2 separate regions of the Homo sapiens genome follow, and region 1 is linked to region 2. Evidence: fine-mapped expression QTL. A gene starts in region 2. The other region holds a variant in brackets. All regions are shown on one strand. Distances are from middle to middle. Region 1 holds the start of LOC107985074 (a long non-coding RNA gene). Region 2 holds the start of CD300C (CD300c molecule).

Region 1 (9,787 bases), 27 kb after region 2:
TTGGAGGACCCCTTGAGGTTGAACCAAGGAGGAGGTTTACAGGAATCTTCAGAGTGGGGCTGCCCGGCCCAGGGTCACAGGCTTTGGCTGGTGGCTCACAGGGTCAGGGGATGGGAGTGACATGGCCTGGGGATGCCCAGGGCTCTGACCACTGCATCCCCTTCCCCAGGAACCACTACATGCTCCTGGTATTTGTGAAGGTGCCCATCTTGCTCATCTTGGTCACTGCCATCCTCTGGTTGAAGGGGTCTCAGAGGGTCCCTGAGGAGCCAGGGGAACAGCCTATCTACATGAACTTCTCCGAACCTCTGACTAAAGACATGGCCACTTAGAGAGATGGATCTGCAGAGCCTTCCTGCCCTGGCCACGTTTCCAGAAGAGACTCGGGCTGTGGAAGGAACATCTACGAGTCCTCGGGATGCAGTGACTGAGATAGGGGCCCTGGGCCTCCGCCCTGGCCTTGGAGCTGGTGGGCACCTCCCTGTTCTGCACAGCTCAGGGACTTAGCCAGGTCCTCTCCTGAGCCACCATCACCTCCTGGGGTGCCAGCACCTGTTCTCTTGGTCAGGAGCTGTAGAGATGGAGCTCAAGCACTGGACGACTCTGTCCCCACTGCTGGAATAACTCGGGCACAGAGCATGGGACCAAAGTACAGAAAGAGGTTGGGGGAGACCCCCCCAGCCCTAGACTTCCATCATTCCGGAGACCAACTCAACACCGTCTTTGCCTGAGAACCTGATATATCCGTGTTTTTAAATTTTTTTTTTTCTAGCAAAGTTGGGTTTTAATGACTTATGTTCATAGGAAACCTCTCTGATCCCACACACAAGGAGGGTGATTCTGGGATGAGTTCCTGGTTCTAGGGCATGAGGGGCTGGATGGACCCTGTCCCCAGGGAGGACATGGCTCTGAGTCCACAGGGCTGAGGAGGCAATGGGAACCTCCCTGGCCCGGCCCGGTGCTTGTCCTCCCCCTCCCACCTCTTCCTCCTCCTAGCTCCCCAAGCTCCCTGCCTATTCCCCCACCTCCGAGGGGCTGCAGCTTGGGAGCCTCCTCAGCATGACAGCTTGGGTCTCCTCCCCAAAAGAGCCTGTCAGGCCTCAAGAACCACCTCCAGGTGGGGAGGGCAGTAACGAAAACCATCGCAGGAAATGGCACCCTCCCTTTTCGGTGATGTTGAAATCATGTTACTAATGAAAACTGTCCTAGGGAAGTGGTTCTGTCTCCTCACAGGCTTCACCCACGGCGATGAGGCCCTTGAATGTGGTCACTTTGTGCTGTATGGTTGAGGGACCCTCACACCAAAGGGACCTTCCCATGTGAGATGTGCTCCCGCCCCCACCTGCCCACAAGCAAACACACCACACATGTTCGGCATGTTGCCCTTTGAACACCCATGAGGACGCCTCCAACCTGCTCTTGGTTCTAATAGGGAGTACTGACTGTCAGCAGTGGATAAAGGAGAGGGGACCCTCTGGTCCCTAGCATGGCACCCAGAGCCTCCCCTCTTCTTGTCCTTCAGCCAAAGAGAAACTTTCTCTGACTTTGAACTGAATTTAGGTCTCTGGCCAATGATGGGCCTGAAAATTCCATAATGGCCAGAGAGGAGAGTTCGAGCCCGGCTAAGATCCCCTGAGTCATTCTGTGAGGGACCAAGACCCACAGTCCACCAGCCCCAGGGCCCTACCTCCTGGAATGCTTTCCTGGATCCAGCTTCCCGAAGATCCGACCAGACCCAGGGAGGACGGCACCGCTCCGCGGGAGGGAAAGCCAAAGCATGGTGCTTCACCAGCTGGACTCAGGGGCGAGGGGACATGGGCGCTTGTCAACGTGATGTCATTCTTTTCCCACCGTTTCTTCCTGTTGATATTCAATGAATCCGTCAATCTCTCTGGAGCTAGTGTGGCTGGGTTGTTATTCTCGTGGCTCTGTTAAGGAGAATCCACTGGAGTAAAGTAGGCATCTATTGTCTGTCTGCCCAACTACCACCCACCGCGCACGCCCTTACACCACCACCCCTTGTACACATCTCTAGGAATACCCCTTGGGGTTCCAACACAAGCTGACAAGCAAGGCTTGCCTAATACGCCCATTCTCTGGGGTAGGGAGAAAGACGGAAGTCAATAAATGAGTCACTAGTGCTGGCATTGCATTTTCCAGCAAATATGTTTCCATTGGGAGCTTGGAGCCAAAGCCGTCATGCCCTTAAATAGCCACAGACCATGAGGATTCGGCATATGCTGATTTTCACACTTAATGGAACCAAAAGTTAGTGAGGCCGGGCATGGTGGCTCCCGCCTGTAATCCCAGACCTTTGGGAGGCTGAGGCAGGTGGATCACCTGAGGTCAGGAGTTCAAGACCAGCCTGGCCAACATGGCAAAACTGCTGTCTCTACTAAAAATACAGCAATTAGCTGGGTGTGGTGGTGTACACCTGTAGTCCCAGCTACTCAGGAGGCTGAGGCAGGAGGATCACTTGAACCCGGGAAGTGGAGGTTGCAGTGAGACGAGATGGTGCCATTGCACTTCAGCCTGGGTGACAGAGGACAGAGCGAAACTCTGTCTCAAAAAAAAAAAAAAAGTTAGTGGGCAGGTGTGGATCTTGCTCTTTTAAGAAAAAAGCACAGCTTTTCCTTCCCCATGAGGCCCTTCCCACAGGCCTTTACTTCTGAACAACTGCATAGCCACAGAGGAAGTTCAGAGCCGAGGGCAGCTGGCTAGGGGCAGTAAAGAGATAGCAGCGGGAAGGGCCCTCACCAGAGAGGCAGACATGGGTTCCTTCTTCTTCCCCTTTTTAAAAATTGTGGTAAAAAATGAACAAACAAAAAACACCTAACATGAAATCTGCCCTCTTAACAAACTCTTAGGTGTGTGGTAAAATATGATTAATTATATGCACATTGTTGTACAGCAGAGTTCTAGAACTTTCTCACCTTGCATGACTAAATCATGCCCATTGAGTAGCAACTCTCCCTCCCACTCCTCCACCAGCCCCCGGCTGCCACTATTTTACTTTTTGCTTCTATGAGTGTGACTAGTTTAGTTACCTCATGTAACCAGAACCATGCAGCCTTTAACCTGTGACTGTCTTATTTTAGTTAGCATAATGTCCTCAAGATGCATCCATGTTGTTGAATACGGCAGGATTTCCTTCTTTGTTAAGGCTGAATAAAATTATATTCCATTGTAAGATAAAGAATACGTGGCACATATACATAATGGAATACTGTTTAGATGTAAGAAAGAACAAAATTCGACTGGGCGCGGTGGCTCACGCCTGTAATCCCAGCACTTTGGGAGGCCGAGGCAGGCGGATCACGAGATCAAGAGATCAAGACCATCCTGGCCAACATGGTGAAACCCTGTCTCTACTAAAAATGCAAAAATTAGCTGGGCCTGTTAGTGTGTGCCTGTAGTCCCAGCTACTCAGGAGGCTGAGGCAGGAGAATCGCTTGAACCCAGGAGGTGGAGGTTGCAGTGAGCCAAGATCCTGCCACTGCACTTCAGCCTGGCGACAGAGCAAGACACCGTTTAAAAAAAAAAAAAAGAACAAAATTCTATCATTTGTGGCAACATGGATGAGCTTGGAGGACGTTATGTGAATGAAATAAGTCAGGCCCAGAAAGAGAAATACTGCATGTTCTCAAGTTGATCTCAAGACATAGAGAATAGAACAGTGGTTATTAGAGGTGGGGCAGTGTGTTGGGGGTTAGGGGATAGCCAGAGATTTGTTAACAGATACAAAAGTACAGCTGCATAGGCAGAATAAATCCTCGTGTGCTATAGCACTAGGGGATGTCTATAATTGTCAACAACTTATTGTATATTTTCAAATAGCTAGAAGAGTAGATTTTGAATGTTTCCAACACAAAAGTGAGGTGATGGATATGCTGATTACCCTTATTTGATCATTACACATTATATACATGTATCAAAATATCACAATGTGCCCCATAAATGTCTGATTATGTGTCAATTAAAAATAGTAATAATTTTTAAAAGAAAATAAATAGAAGAAAAAACTGTGTTCTCAGCCTACTTTCAAGCACACTATAAAATATTTTGTTCTCATCCCCCACTAAAATATTATTCCATTGTGTATTAGCCTGTTTTCACACTGCCGATAAACACATACCCAAGACTGGGCAATTTACAAAAGAAAGAGGTTTATTGGACTTACAGTTCCACATGGCTGGGGAGGCCTTACAATCATGGTGGAAGGCAAGGAGGAGCAAGTCACATCTTACATGGATGGCAGCAGGCA[AAGAG/G]AGAGAGCTTCTGCAGGGAGACTCCCGTTTATAAAACCATCAGATCTCATGAGACCCATTCACTACCACCAGAACAGCACGGGGAAGCCCTGCCCTCATGATTCAGTCATCTCCCACCAGGTCCCTCCTACAACATGTGGGAATTATGGGAGCTACACGATGAGATTTGGGTGGGGACACAGAGCCAAACCGCATCACATTGTATGTACATATCACACTTTCTTTATCCATTCATCCATTGATGGACGTTTAGGCTGTTTCCATCTCTTGGTTATTGTGAATAATGCTGCTTCCAATGAACATAGGCATGCAGATAGCACTTTGCAATCCTGTTTTCAGTTTTTCTGGATAAATACCCAGAAGTGGGACTTCTGGATCATATGATAGTTCTATTTTTAATTTTTTGAGTAACCTCAATACTATTTCCCATAATAGCAGCTACACCATTTTACCTCCCCACCAATAGTGCACAAGGGTTCTAGTGTCTCCACATTCTCACCAGCATTTGTTGTTTTCTGTTGTTTTATACATGTTGTTTCTATACATATATATATACACATTCTCACCAGCATTTGTTGTTTCTGTTGTTTTATACATGTTTTTATACACACATATATACACACACACAATGGCTATTCTAACAGGTGTGAAGTGATATCCCATTGTGGTTTTGATTTGCATTTTCCTGATAATGAGTGGTGTTGAGCATCTTTTCATGTATTTATTGGCTATTTGTAGATTTCTTCTGGAGAAATGTCAAGTCCTTTGCCCATTTAATCGGGCCTTTTTTTTTTTTATTGTTTTAGGAGTTCTGTCTATATTTGGGATATAATTCCTTATCAGATATGTAATTTGCAAATATTTTATCCCATTGTGTGAGTTGCCTTTTTACTCTGTTGATATTGTCATTTGGTGCACAAATTTTGAAATTTTAGCCAGACATGGTGGTTTGCACCTGTAATCCTGGCTACTCAGGAGGCAGAGGTGAGAGGATCACTTGGACTCAGGAGTTTGAGGCTGTGGTGCGCCATGATCATGCCAGTAAATAGCCACTGCATTTCAGCCTGGGCAGCATAGCAAAACCCCCATCTCTTAAAAAAAAAAAGATATGAGTCAAAAACACATAATTTAAATTTTCATGAAGTTCCATTTGTCTGTGTTGTTGTTGTTGTTGCCTGTCCCCTCAGCATCATGTCTATGAAATCACTGGCAAATCCAATGCTGTGAAACTTTTGCCTTGTGTTTTCTTCTAAGAGTTTTATGGTTTTAGATCCTACATTTAGGTCTTTGATCCATTTGAGTTAATTTTTGTCTATGTTATTAGGGAAGGCTCCAGTGTCATTCTTTTGCATATGAATTTCCAGTTTTTCAATTATTACTATTTTTTTAAAAAATCATTTCCCTTACTCGCAAGTAGGTAGTTTCTAGTCCAAGATTTTATCTGGGAGGTAGTGCCTTTGAGTATTCTGATCGTTAAGTGGAGTCTCAGACACAGCGCCCATTTTGGGTGGTCTAAGCCTATTGCTCCCCCAAGCCCTGCAGTTCATCCCCTAAATACTAGCCTCTCTGTAAGGTCAGCCACTGATCATGGCAGCCACTGCTTCCTCTCTTGTTTCACTGTTAATTGCTGATTTGGGGCTTTTGGTTTGTTTGTTTGGCCTTGGTGGTGTCCTTGGAATTGGTTGATACAAGTTCCTTCTTGCTCTGTGGTCATGGCCTCAGAACTGTCTTCATCCTAAGGCAGCAGAGAGAGATCTCTGAAGTAGGCAGCAGAGAGAGATCAGCCCAGACACCAGACACAAGGACTTCTGAGGAAGAAAACCAGACCACTGATCCCAGAAGTTTCCCAGAGTCCCCACCCCCATCACATCCCCTCAATGTCTCATTGGCTGCTTCAGACTCTGGTGACCACCCCTAGCTTAATTACTGACAAGGTGATTGGGACCAGCTTCCAGCTGGGACTATCCTCCCCTGATTCACATTTGGAAGGGTGGATGGCCAGACCTGGTGATGGCTCCATCCTGGAGTGGAGTTGGGTAGGAGGAGACAAAAACGCCTGTTGCAGAAGTCTTGCTGGACCCCGCTCCATTCTGAGCCTCCTCCTGGGTCTTTCTAGACCACTGTGCCTCCATCTTTGTGAACACAACAAGCTCCTGCCCTCACACCCTCTCCTGAGGCAGGTTGGAGGGGTCTCTGTGGGCTGCAGCATCAGGAACTTGACCCTTTCTCCCCCTCCTCAGCTTCTCAGCTCCATCTCCTCCAGGGCCATGGCAACTTTCTTTCTGCAAACAGAAGCCTCCGCGAGGACACAGGCTCCTCACAGCTGAAGTCCTGTGCAAGCCAGCATCCCCCACCATCATCCTTTTGTCTCAGTACTAACCCAGGCAACTGTACCACTGGCCAAAAAAAAAAAAAGTACTTTGATGGTTAATACTGAATGTCAACTTGATCAGATTGAAGGATGCAAAGTATTGTTCCTGGGTGTGTCTGTGAGGGTATTGTCAAAGGAGATTAACGTTTGAGTCAGTGGAATGGGAAAGGCAGACCCACCCTCAATCCGGGTGGGCACCATCCAATCAGCTGCCAGTGTGGCCAGAATAAAAGTAGGCAGAAGAACATGAAAGACTAGATTGGCTAAGTCTTCCAGCCTCCACCTTTCTCCCATGGTAAATGCTTCCTGCCCTTGAACATCGGACTCCAAGTTCTTCAGCTTCTGGACTCTTGGACTTACACCAGTGATTTGCCAGGGGCTCTTGGGCTTTCAGCTACAGACTGAAGGTTGCTCTGTCAGCTTCCGTACCTTTGAGGTTTTGGTACTTGGACTGGCTTCCTGGCTCCTCAGCTTGCAAACAGCCTATTGTGGGACTTTACCTTGTGATTGTGTGAGTTCATTTTCCTAATAAACTCCCCTTCATATATATATATATATCTCCTATTAGTTCTGTCCCTCTAGAGAACCCTGAGTAATACAAGTACTAAACTTTATTTAGCTGCCAATTTCTGTTCTAAATCTATGTTTGTCAGGGAACAACTGGTCTGCAAATGCTAATGGCTTTACCTTGGCTCTCCTTCCTTACTTACTCACAAGCAGGTAGTTTCTGGTCCACCATTTTACCTGGGAGATAACGCCTTTGAGTATTCTGGCCGTAAGTGGAGTCTCAGACACAGCTCCCCACTTTGGGTGGCCTCAAGAACACACCCACGGAGGGAGTGTTCTAACCTCAGGGCATCCTTGGGGGCATCAATCAAGGAGAGATGGGGCCACAGGCCTGAGAGCAGGAAGCTGCAGAATTCTCCAAGGCACTGCTCAGGGTCCCCAGTCCAGAGGTCTCCTGTGTGTGGATATAGAATCTAGTGTGACCCTTTGACAGAGACGCCTCGTTGAGCCTTTGTGTCAGAGACACCACTTTTCATCCATTAATGATCGGCCATTTATCATGATGCAAGAGGAGAAAGAGAAAACAGGGGGTTCCAGCAAGGCCAGAGCAGCCAGAGATGGTGAACGATGTCACCCAACATCTGGCTCCCAAGTTTATGGAGGAAGAAGGGGATGTTTTGTGTCTTCTGGGGTTTCCTTTGGTAATGTGTCCCTGTGGTGGCCCTTGGTGTGCTATGATGAGCCACCTGCAGCAGTCAGCACTAGGAAGCCCCAGTAGAGATTGTGTTACCAGCGTGGCAGAGAACTCACAGCCTCTCCCCTGCTTGGTGAACAGGTGCTCCCCCTGGAATCATATGACATCAATCACCCATCACATGATCACCCATGATGTGACATCACCCATCACATGATTGCCCATCACGTGATGTCGCCCATCACGTGATATTGCCCATCACATGACATCACCCATCATATGATCGCCCATCACGTGATGTCGCCCATCATGTGATATCACCCATCACGTGACATCACCCATCACATGATCACCCATCACATGACATCACCTATCACATGACCACCCCCGCATGACATCACCCATTACATGATATCACCCATCACATGACCACCCATCACATGACATCACCTGTCACATGATCACCATCACATCACCCATCACATGATTGCCCATCACATCACCCATCACATGACATCACCCATCACATGACCACCCATTACATGACAGCACCCATCACATGATCACCCATCACATGACATCCCTGTCACATGACATCACTCATCACATGATCACCTATCACATGACATCACCCATCACATGACATCACTCATCACATGATCACCCATCACATGACATCACCTGTCACATGACCACATGTCACATGGCATCACCCATCACATGACATCACCCATCACATGATCACCTGTCACATGATCACCTGTCACATGACATCACCCATGATATGACATCACCCATCACATGATCACTTGTCACATGATCACCCATCACATGACATCACCCATCACATGACATCACCCATCACATGATCGTCGATCACATGACATCACCTATCACATGACCACCCCCACATGACATCACCCATTACATATCACCCATCACATGACCACCCATCACATGACATCACCTGTCACATGATCACCCATCACATGACATCGCCCATCCCATCACCCATCACATGACATCACCCATCACATGACCACTCATCACAGGATCACCTTGTCACATGACCACCTGTCACATGGCATCACCCATCACATGACATAACCCATCACATGGCATCACCCATCACATGACATCACCCATCACATGACATCATGCATCACATGACATCACCCATCACATGACATCACACATCACATGACATCACCCATCACATGACATCACCCATCACATGACATCACCCATCACATGACATCAATGTCCCATAGATAAGCAGAACACTAAATTGATTCTGTAGAGTGAATATGGGATGGAAAAATCCAACTCTAATCATACCCTACTCACCAAGCAGGAAAGACATGCATAAGCTTCACCTGAAAGTCTTATTTTAGGGCATTGTTGTGTAATCCCAGCATTTTGGGAGGCTGAGGCAGGATGTTTGCTTGAGCCCAGGAATTTGAGACCAGCCTGTACTGGCAAGACCCCCCATCTCTATAAAACATTTAAAATAATAAATAAATAAATAAATAAATAAATAAATAAAAACAAAGGCTGTGATTCCAGGAGCAGAATATTTGGTAATGGAACATAAAGAAAGACAAAGGCCAGGCAGGCCATTCGAGGCATCAGTTCAAGTCCATGCCCATGAGCTGCCTCCTGCCTGCTCAGGCAACCTCCCAGGCAGCTGAAATCAGAAAAACAGATGAGGGTCACAAGCATTCAGCTTCCTGGAAAGGAGTGTCCCCAAAATAAATCACTTGAGTTATTGTAGGGTCTCAGTCTCTCTTCTTGTCTGGATGGTGGTCGGGTTCTAGATTTGCAGGAATGAGGACCAGACCCAGGTAAATTCACCAAAGTCGTATCCCAAGAGGAGATCTCCCAACCATGGCCTTTGCATCGTTTAACTCATCAACCTCAGAAGCACTGGGGGGATTGACCCAACCA
Region 2 (9,787 bases):
ATTTTCACGGCCACGTGCTTCCTTATAGGCAGTCCTGAGACTCCAGGGACTCTCAGGCTGAAGGTCAGGGTCTAATGATCTCTTTAGAGGAGTTGTCATATACAGAGTTTGTCCTCACAGGGATTTGTGTGGCCACAGGACCTGGGTTCACAGACAGGCAGAAGGTGGAGGGCACCTGGGCTTCCCCTGGGGAGATGACTCACTGCCATCACCGTGTCCCCACAGCTCCCTGTTCAGCAGCCCCTACGTCCTGCTCCTGGTCCTGGAGCTGCCCCTGCTCCTGAGCATGCTGGGTGCCGTCGTCTGGGTGAACGGACCTCAGAGAAGCTCTGGAAGCAGGCAGAGTTGGCCAGAGGGTGAGAACCAGTAGCATCTACTGTCCATCAAGGCCCTGCACTGCGACAGAACCCCTTTGCGGGACTGGAATGACCTCCTGACCACTCCCTCCCGGGCTGCTCTCTCCACATCTCCTGGAATTCTCTGTGAGCCTCCTTCAGCCTTTTCCCTGTGCCTGATCCATGAATCACACGTGAACCTGATGGACACAGACGCCCTGAGCTGTGACTCCATGTCTCATGTGCACGCCCTGGCCAGCTGAACCTCGAGCTGTCACCAACACCTCTAAGTGCCTGATGCCCTCTCTGCACCTTTCCATTTCTCCAGGAGCTTGGCATTGCTTCCTTCAACGTTTTCACAGGGAGGAGCAGGTCCAGGACTCCCCTGCACCTTTGCCACCATAATGGCCCACACTCCCCGGGTCCAGGAGTGCAGAATATGTGGCTGCTTCCATTTGCTGAGTGTGTCAATTCAATGATGCTTTCGAACTTTAAGAAATGACAATACATAGATTCTGGACCTATCATGCCCACTAAGTCAGACCTGGGTGAAAACTCCATTGTTCCCTGATCTCCACAGGCCTTTGCTCAGAATAGTGGACTAAGCCCCAGGCTGGGCCTCTCAGGACTGGGGTCCCTGCAGAAGAGGATCCAGGATTCCCCCCAAAACCTGACAATTCCGTTCCTTATGTAGACACATCCTGGCCAGTGTCTTCTGGTCCCTGCGGGAGGGCTGGTAGAAGATTATCAGTGTGAGTTGTGGCATGGTAGCCAGGCCTTTCCTTCCTCCTTCCTCAAGGGGACCTGACCTCCCCTTCATTCCAGGGCTGTGGCTTTTAACTGACTCAAATATGGAAATTGGTTGAGGGCCGTGACTTCTTAATGTGGTAGTTAACTGAGTCTTTTGCTTACTAGTGCAGACCATGTCTGCTTATCCAGACAAAGGAAGACGTTATCAGCTGACCATCGTTTCGGTTCCAGGGATGCCACACCCAAGACCCCTGTGAGGCAGATGATCCCCATGAGTCCACCAGGTCAAGGAGGGACACGCCTGGGGGTCCTCACCTATTTTTACATTCAGCAGATACTTATGGGAGCTTCTGGTGTATCAGACACTGACCTGGCATTGGAGTCCAGCCGTGAACACCCAGGCAAGGAGCTCTGTTTTCATTGAGCTCATATTCCAGGCGGGGGATAGAAATGATAAACAGATGCAAAAATACGTGCATAAATTCCAGAAGAAATATAAAAGTCAGAGATGAAAAGAGTCACGGAATGAAATAAGAGAAGTGGGGTGACTGCTGTGCAGGAGCTGAGGGGGACTGTGGTGAAGCCCCTCTAATAGGCGCTGAGCAAGCAGGGATCAGGAGAAAGGAGGGGGTGAGCGCCAGGATCCCTGGAGGAGGAGCCCTGAGGCAGAGAGAGGAGCAGGTGCACATGTCCTGCCAGGGGCAGATGCCTCCCTGGGTCAGGTGGCTTCAGGGCCTCCAGACAGCATTTCCTGTCTCCTCCCCAGCCTGGGCAGGAAATGGTGCACCAACTTTGGATGACTAAGTCCTCTGAGGCAGTGGGACATCAGGATGTCATGTATCCATTCACCCATTCATCCTTTCAACAGCCAGTTTGTTAAACTGCACTTGGCAGACTCTGGAATGATAACGGGCACAGCTGTGAATGAGACAAGAGGCTGCACCTGCTCTCAAGGGGCGGCCACCCTAGATGGGAGCAGACATTGACTCGCCAACAGAAAGACTGAGGAAGACGAGAGGGAAGTGTGAAATGGGTCATGAGGACCCCTAAAAAGCGAGCCACCATAACCCGGGAAGGTCAAGGAACACGCAGGCAACCCTGTCGGCTGGAGCCAGGCAGAGGAGTGGGAGGTTGAGGGTCTGGACAAAGGCCCGAGTGGGGAGGGTGGCAGCACCAGTGTGAACCTGGATCCAGGAGGCTGGAGACACCTACCAGGTGCTGGGGCCTGCCAGGACCTGTGTGCAGAGGCCAGGTCAGGTGGGTGCCATCCTGTGACAGCAGGAGCCATTGGGAGTTCAGCAGCGCCTCCCCAGGGCCATGTGTGTGTGTCAGGGATCACATTGCTGATTCTGTGGAGAATGAAAGGGGTGGGTATGAGCAGAAGGGGAGACCAGGTCAGCCCATGAAAGAGCCGGGATACTTCAAAGCCAGGCCCAGGCCAGACCTGAGCACTGGGCTAATTGGAGGCCCTGGGATTGCACTGGGCTAGAGATAGTCCCATGATGTGAGTCTGGGGGCATCAACACCAATGACCCCAGTGCATGCTGTGTCCCTGAGAGTGTAAATGGAGGGAGGACAGGGCAGGTCGAGGGTGCAGAGACCCCTTCATGGTGCCAGGTTTGCCCAGACTCCCATCACTCTCCACTCAACCTCATGGCTGTGTGCACATACTGGTGCTATTGACTCTGATAGGAAGAAAGGAACAGAAATCTGTAGGAGGGTTGGGAGAGTCAAGGAATATGCTTAAGGCATGAGAAGGTGGAGAAGGGGTGATGCCCTCCAGGACAGACAGGAGGTAAATCCTGTGTCTGACTAGCCTCCTTGCCCTTTCCAGGGTAAAGACACCCTGAGCCCATCACGTCAGGAGAACCAGCCATGCCGAGTGTGGATAGACCTGGGTTCCCGCCTCCTGGGAAGGCCTGTCTGCCATGTCTGCTCCCTGCGGAGGCCCCTGGCCATCACAGTGGACCCAGGATAGACACCAGCAGCCGCTGCTCATGACAAACTGTCCTCTCAGTCACCAAACACCCCTCCGTGTGCCCTGGGGTGTGTGCTGGCTCAGTCGCAGCCTCACATCCTCCACAAAGTCCCACTTCAGCATCTTCACATGTCTGAACTCTCTCTCTATTCTCAGTTCTCTGCCCTGATTCCCACTGGGGCATGGATTTTGGCAAGAAGACAAGATGGAAAAGGAGGGTCTCGGGTGGGTGATGCCGCTGTGTGTGTAGGTCTGGGGGCAGGGGCACAAGAGGAAAACTCCCCAAGCCTGTGGGATTTTAACCTGGTTGGGGACTCAGCACCAAAAAGGGACATGCAGATGGTGTCTGGGTTCATAGCGCTAACTTCTGAGGCCAGAAGAAGAGCTGGGGGTCTTAGGGGCAGAGGTCTCTGCGGGGACCTAGCTGAAGATTAAGGGACACAACCTCTCTCTGGTCACCTCCAAGGCTAAAGAAGGTGGCAGATTTAGCCTCCAACCACAAGATTGTCCATCCTGACCAGGAAGTGACATGTCACAGAGGGTGGAGCAGCCCATGTGGTAGGAAATGGCCCAGCTTGGCTCTGCCTTCTGCAGTGTGAGTAACACACTGAAGCCAGAAGCTGTGGGCTGTGGGGAAGTGGCTGCATCGCCACCCAAGGGACCCTGGACTTTGCCAGACGTCAGGGTTGAGAGGAGCCACTAGCACCATCCCAGAGCTGTCAGCACCGGCCTCAGCCCAGGCGGCTCTCTCCCTGAGCTTCCTGTACCCTGACCCTCTCCAGCCTCAGACCTGAGACAGGGCTGGACAAGGAAGCAGAGAGCAGAAGAAAAGCAGAAGCGAAGCTCAGATCTGCTGGGAGGAGATTACATTTTGTCCCCTCCTGGGGTCTTGCACAGTGGCAGGTGACATTCGTGTTACAGGAATGACTGCCAGGGCCTGGGCCTCGTGGCGGTCTTCAGCTCTGCTCCTCCTGCTTGTCCCAGGTGAGTGGGCCGACCCTGGACTTGGGGAGCTCTGTCCTGAGTGGGAGAGGGCAGGGAGGGGTGCAGGCGCTGGAGTAGCGGTCATAGAGGGGAGTGGGGCAGGGAGAGGGGAGGAGGGCAAAGGAGCACCCAGGAGCGGTCAGCAGCTGCCTCACCAGGGGACAGCAGGCGGCAGGGCACAGCACGGGGGAGGCCTATTCCTCTGTGCCCGAGACAGGAAGCCCTGGTGGGAGGTGATGCTGTGACTGTCATTGCCAAAGTTATCCAATCACAAATTTTATCTGGGACGATCACACACACAGTCACACTCACACGCACACACGGTCACACTCACACAGTCTCACACACATGCACACACAGTCACACTCACACAGTCTCACACACACATGCACACAGTCACACATGCACACACAGTCACACTCACATGCACACACAGTCACACATGCACACACAGTCACACACAGTCACACTCACACAGACAGTCACACTCACACAGTCACACACACAGAGTCACACTCACATGCACACACAGGCCCGCACACACCCAGTGTTTCCCTAGCCTTGCCTTTCCAGTCTCCATGGAAACTTCCCATGCCCTTCCCACCTCTGCACAGAGGGAGCCTCCCACCCTCAGTCCCTGTTCCTGGGTGGACAAAGGCTGCCTGCCTGCCATTGCCTTCTCCACACGCCCAGGGTCCATGAGGGGCTGACACTGCGGCACCCCTGACCAGGCCCCTCTGGTAAGGAGACAGGATTTTGGCTTGTATTTTTCAGGCTATTTTCCTCTGAGCCACCCCATGACCGTGGCGGGCCCCGTGGGGGGATCCCTGAGTGTGCAGTGTCGCTATGAGAAGGAACACAGGACCCTCAACAAATTCTGGTGCAGACCACCACAGATTCTCCGATGTGACAAGATTGTGGAGACCAAAGGGTCAGCAGGGAAAAGGAATGGCCGAGTGTCCATCAGGGACAGTCCTGCAAACCTCAGCTTCACAGTGACCCTGGAGAATCTCACAGAGGAGGACGCAGGCACCTACTGGTGTGGGGTGGATACACCGTGGCTCCGAGACTTTCATGATCCCATTGTCGAGGTTGAGGTGTCCGTGTTCCCGGGTGAGCCCCTCCTTTTCTCAGCACCAGGCCTGCCTGAGCCTAGGGCTGGTCATTCTGTCCCTGAAGAAAGAAGTGGAACAGGAGGGTGTGAGCCTGGGGGTTGGTGAGTCAGGACACTGTGTGCCGCTGTGTGTGGATGAGTGTGAGTGCGTCTTTGTGTATGCGTGCCTGCATAGGAGTTGTGGTGTGGTTTGTGTGTGTGTGCACCTGCATGTGTGTGTTGGGAGGGTGGGCGCCCACAAAAGCACCCTGGCCCTGTGGCTGGAGACCCCCCGCTGTGGGCCCTCCCTCACGGCCTCAGGCCTGAAACTTTCCTGGGTGGGGTCTGTGAGGCCACCCCTGACTCTGGGGTCCTTGCTACCTCCCTGTATTGACAAGGGCCGGATCCATACTGAAGGGTGCCCACTGTCCCGCCTGGGTCTAACTCGCTCTTCCCCACGGGGAATTGGACCCCCCCATCATTGGCTCCTCTCACTCAAGGCTGCCCCTGCCCTGGGGCCTGCATGGATGCCGCCCTGTCTGGAGGGTCCTGAGGCCGCAGCCTCACAGCCCTGTCCTGGGAGCTCCTGCAGCAGCCACTGGAGGACACAGGAAGGAGCCCCAGAGCCCTGGGTGGGGTTCTCATGCTCCTGGGAACCACATCCTGCCCCTGAGGCTGACCTGTGTGTCCCCCTTATTCTCTGGCACCTTTTACCACAGGAGGGAACCCCAGAAATTGCCCCCTCAGGCAAAGGGACCTGTGGATGGAAATGAGCTGAGACTGGCACGGACCTGAGGGCCCTTTCCCGTGCCGAAGATCATTCTTCCCTCAAAGGCCCCCTCCTGTCTCACAAGACACAAACCCAGTGGCCTCAGTGTGGTTGCTTTTCCATCGTTTTCTTCTGACAATGTCCCAGGTTCCTCGGAGCATCTTCTTGTTCTCCATTTCCCCGGGGGCGACGTGTCCCTCCTGCGCCCTTTGTGCCTTCCTATCTAGGAGTGAGGAGCTAAGATCCCACCTGAGGGCGCCAGGGAGAGGAGGAAAGGGCCCTTATCCAGCTGTATTCACCACGGGCCGCCGCCCAGGCTTCACCGGGCATCCCCTCTCTAGATCTTTCTTCCTGGGCATTCCCTCCTGCTGAGAGGATGGTCCAATGGCCTTGTGGGGCCGCAGCATGGCTGCCATTTGGGGCTGAGTGGACTCGGGTCCCATCGTTCAGGGAGGACCCCACTGACTTCCTGTCCTCACTTCCAGCCTCTCTCCAGCCACTGCTGTGCCCAGGGCCCTGGCTTCGCAGTCACTCTGGGTCACCCTTCGCAGAGTAAACATCACCCCATTCCCCCAGGTCACCCTGTCCCTCCCTGGCTGGGGTGAAACCTGGAGACCCGTACCTTTGCCACAGGTGAGCAGGGCAGCTCTCACATCTGAAATGGTGTCCTGGCTCTGCAGTACCTAGGGATGGGACAAGGAGAGGCCCAGGACCCTGGTCAGGCCTGGGTGTGGCCGTGGGGCATGATGGATGCAGGGCATCTGTCCAGCACATCATTGGTGACCTTGTCTGTGAAAATTGGAGCAGAACAGGTGAGAGTAAGTGGGAGACCCATGTGATGTCATCAAGGTTGACCTGTGTTTCACCCACAGCCGGGACGACCACAGCCTCCAGCCCCCAGAGCTCCATGGGCACCTCAGGTCCTCCCACGAAGCTGCCCGTGCACACCTGGCCCAGCGTGACCAGAAAGGACAGCCCCGAACCCAGCCCACACCCTGGGTAAGGTGCCTGCGCATAGGACTGGGCCACGCTGGCGGCCTCCCCACTGCGTGTGATGTTTAGGGGACTCGGATGTCCCTTCTTCCAGTCCCTTCTTTGTTCGCACCTCCCACACCAAACGTGAAGGTTCTATTAAGTGTCAGGCGCTCCTTTTGGGATTGGGTCACAGCAGGGAACCACACAGCCACTGTCCTGCCCTGGTGGAAGTTGAGTTCTACTGCGTGGATTCACGCATTGAGCAAGTCAGCACAGAGGCTGATGTACAAATACAGCAAAGGGTAATGAATGCTGGGATGAGATGTTTGACTCTTGGGTTTGGGGAGAGCGTGTGCAGGTGTTGGAGTTGCTATTTCACTGACGATGATCAGAAGAGGGTTTGAGAATTAGAGGACATGAGCACAGAGACCTCAAGGGTTGGGGGCTGGGCACTCTGGGGTCTGGAGGAAGAAGGGTCCAGGTGGAGGGAGGAGTGAGGCAAATGTCCTGCGAGGAGCCTTGGGACCTGGCCAGGCCAGGGAAGGGGGCAGATGCTCTGGGGTCCGGTGGCCCTGGTCCTCTCCCCTGCCTCTCTCGCAGCCCTGGCCAGAGTTTCATCCTGTTTGATAAGCCCAGTCCTCTGAGGAGCTGAGAGCTGAGCTGTCCATTCATTAATTCCTTCAACAACCACTGAAGTTGTAGGGCAGATTATTGGAGACTCCGGGTAGGCAGCAGGTACTCACTGTGAATGAAACAAATGGTCCCTGCCCTCCTGGAAACGCTGTGTACAGGAGAGTTGACACCAAACAAATAACCCTTTGTGAATTCCGGGACCCCAGCTGGGTAACCCTCCATGGGGAGCACAGAGGTAGACAGCTGCGTCCTGGACACAGACCCTGCCTGGATCCCTGGCGTGACCTCACGTCCTCTCATGGTCCTGCCCTTCCTGTGTCACAGTCCTCAGGTCAAGGGTAAATCCGAGGCTGAGGGTTAGGGGCCGTGATGCTGAGACGGGATGGACTGTCCAGGGGGGTGCTTATGTGGTTGGCTGTGGTCACAGGATTGGGACACAAGGGTCAGGGGATGGTGGAGGGCACCTGGGCCTCCCCTGGGGAGGTGACTCACTGCCTGTCACCGTGTCCCCACAGCTCCCTGTTCAGCAATGTCCGCTTCCTGCTCCTGGTCCTCTTGGAGCTGCCCCTGCTCCTGAGCATGCTGGGTGCCGTCCTCTGGGTGAACAGACCTCAGAGAAGCTCTAGAAGCAGGCAGAATTGGCCCAAGGGTGAGAACCAGTAGCATCTGCTGTCCATCAAGGCCCTGTGCTGCAACAGAGCCCCTCTGGGGGACTGGAATGACCTCCTGACCACTCCCTCCCGGGCTGCTCTCTCCACATCTCCTGGAATCCTTTGTGAGCCTCCTTCAGCCTTTTCCCTGTGCCCGATCCTCATGTGTCACATGTGAACCTGACGGACATGGACGCCCTGAGCTGTGAGTCCACGTCTCATGTGCACGCCCCGGCCAGCTAAGCCTCGGGCCGTCAGCAATACCTCTGAGTGCCCGGATGCCCTCCCTGCACCCTTCCATTTCTCCAGGAGCCTGGCACTGCTTCCTCCACCGTTTTCACAGGGAGAAGCAGGTCTAGGACTCCCCTGCACCTTTGCCACCATAATGGCCCACACTCCCTGGGTCCAGGAGTGTAGAATATGCGGCTGCTTCCATTTGCTGAGTGTGTCGATTCAATGATGCTTTCAAACTTTAATAAATGACAATGTGTAGGTTTGGGATGTATCAGGCCCACTCAGTCAGACCTGAGTGAGAAATCCATTGTTCCCTGATTTCCACAGGCCTTTGCTGAGAATAGTGGACCAAGCCCCATGTTAGGCCTCTCGGAATGGGGGTCCCTGCAGAAAAGGATCCAGAATTTCCCCCAAAGCCTGACTATTCCCTCCTTCAGGTAGACACATCCTGGCCAGTGTCTTTAGGTCCCTCTGGGAGAGCTGGTAGAAGATTCTCAGTGTGAACTGTGGTAGCATAACCAGGCCTACCCTTCCTCCTTCTTCAAGGGGACCTGACCTCTCCTTCATTCCAGGGCTGTGGGTTTTAACTGGTGCAAATTTGGAAACGGATGGAGGGCTATGACTCCTTGATGTGGTAGTTAAGTGAGTCTTTTGCTCAGTAGTGTAGACCATGTCTGTCTATACAGACGAAAGATGTTATCATTTGCCCACCATTTCAGTTCCAGGGTCGCCATGATGACCTGGCCAACACCCAAGACCCCTGTGAGGCAGATGATTCCCATGAGTCCTCCTGGTCAAGGAGGGCCTCGCCTGGGGGGTTCTTAACCCTTTTTTCCATTCGGCAGATGCTTATGGGAGCTTTTGGTGTATCAGACACTGACCTGGCATTGGAGTCCAGCCGTGAACACCCAGGCAAGGAGCTCTGTTTACACTGAGCCCATATTCCAGGTGGGGGATAGAAATGATAAACAAATGCAAAAATACATGAATATGTTCCAGAGGTAATGTAAAAGACAGAGGTGAAAAGAGCCACGGAGTAAAATAAGAGAAGTGGGGTGACTGCTTTGCAGGAGTGGAGGGGTCTGTGATGAAGCCCCTCTAATAGGCGCTGAGCAAGCAGGGATCAGGAGAAAGGAGGGGGGTGAGCGCCAGGATCCCTGGAGGAGGAGCCCTGAGGCAGAGAGAGCAGCAGGTGCATGTGTCCTGCCAGGGGGGCATCTTAGACTTGGATCTGGAAAACACAGGAAGCAGATCCCTCTCTGGATCCAGTGGCTCCAGGGCCTGCAGATAGCATTCTCTGTCTCCTCCCCAGCCTGAGCTGGATATGGCACACCAGCATCAGACAATTAAGTTTTCTGAAGGCAGGTAAGACTCGAGAGAGTCATG

The links. PIP is the estimated chance that this variant, and not a neighbour inherited with it, causes the effect.
Region 1: its variant is the best candidate, but not a certain one, in a credible set for the expression of CD300C in blood mononuclear cells (TOPMed, PIP 0.70).

What each region holds. Positions count from the first base shown.
Region 1 is chr17:74,513,283-74,523,069 of GRCh38, reverse strand. CD300LB (CD300 molecule like family member b) reads left to right here. Exons shown (of 4, transcript NM_174892.4): 4 at 170-1,896. The coding sequence ends at 332. It overlaps LOC107985074 (a long non-coding RNA gene), which reads right to left and starts at 2,039. Exons shown (of 3, transcript XR_007065902.1): 1 at 1,688-2,039. RefSeq lists an enhancer at 1,245-1,304. The variant AAGAG/G (reference allele first, on the strand shown) is at 4,265.
Region 2 is chr17:74,539,982-74,549,768 of GRCh38, reverse strand. CD300C (CD300c molecule) reads left to right here and starts at 3,654. Exons shown (of 4, transcript NM_006678.5): 1 at 3,654-4,047; 2 at 4,822-5,160; 3 at 6,782-6,908; 4 at 8,033-8,696. The coding sequence starts at 3,987. The coding sequence ends at 8,180. It also overlaps a transcript of LOC107985074 not described here.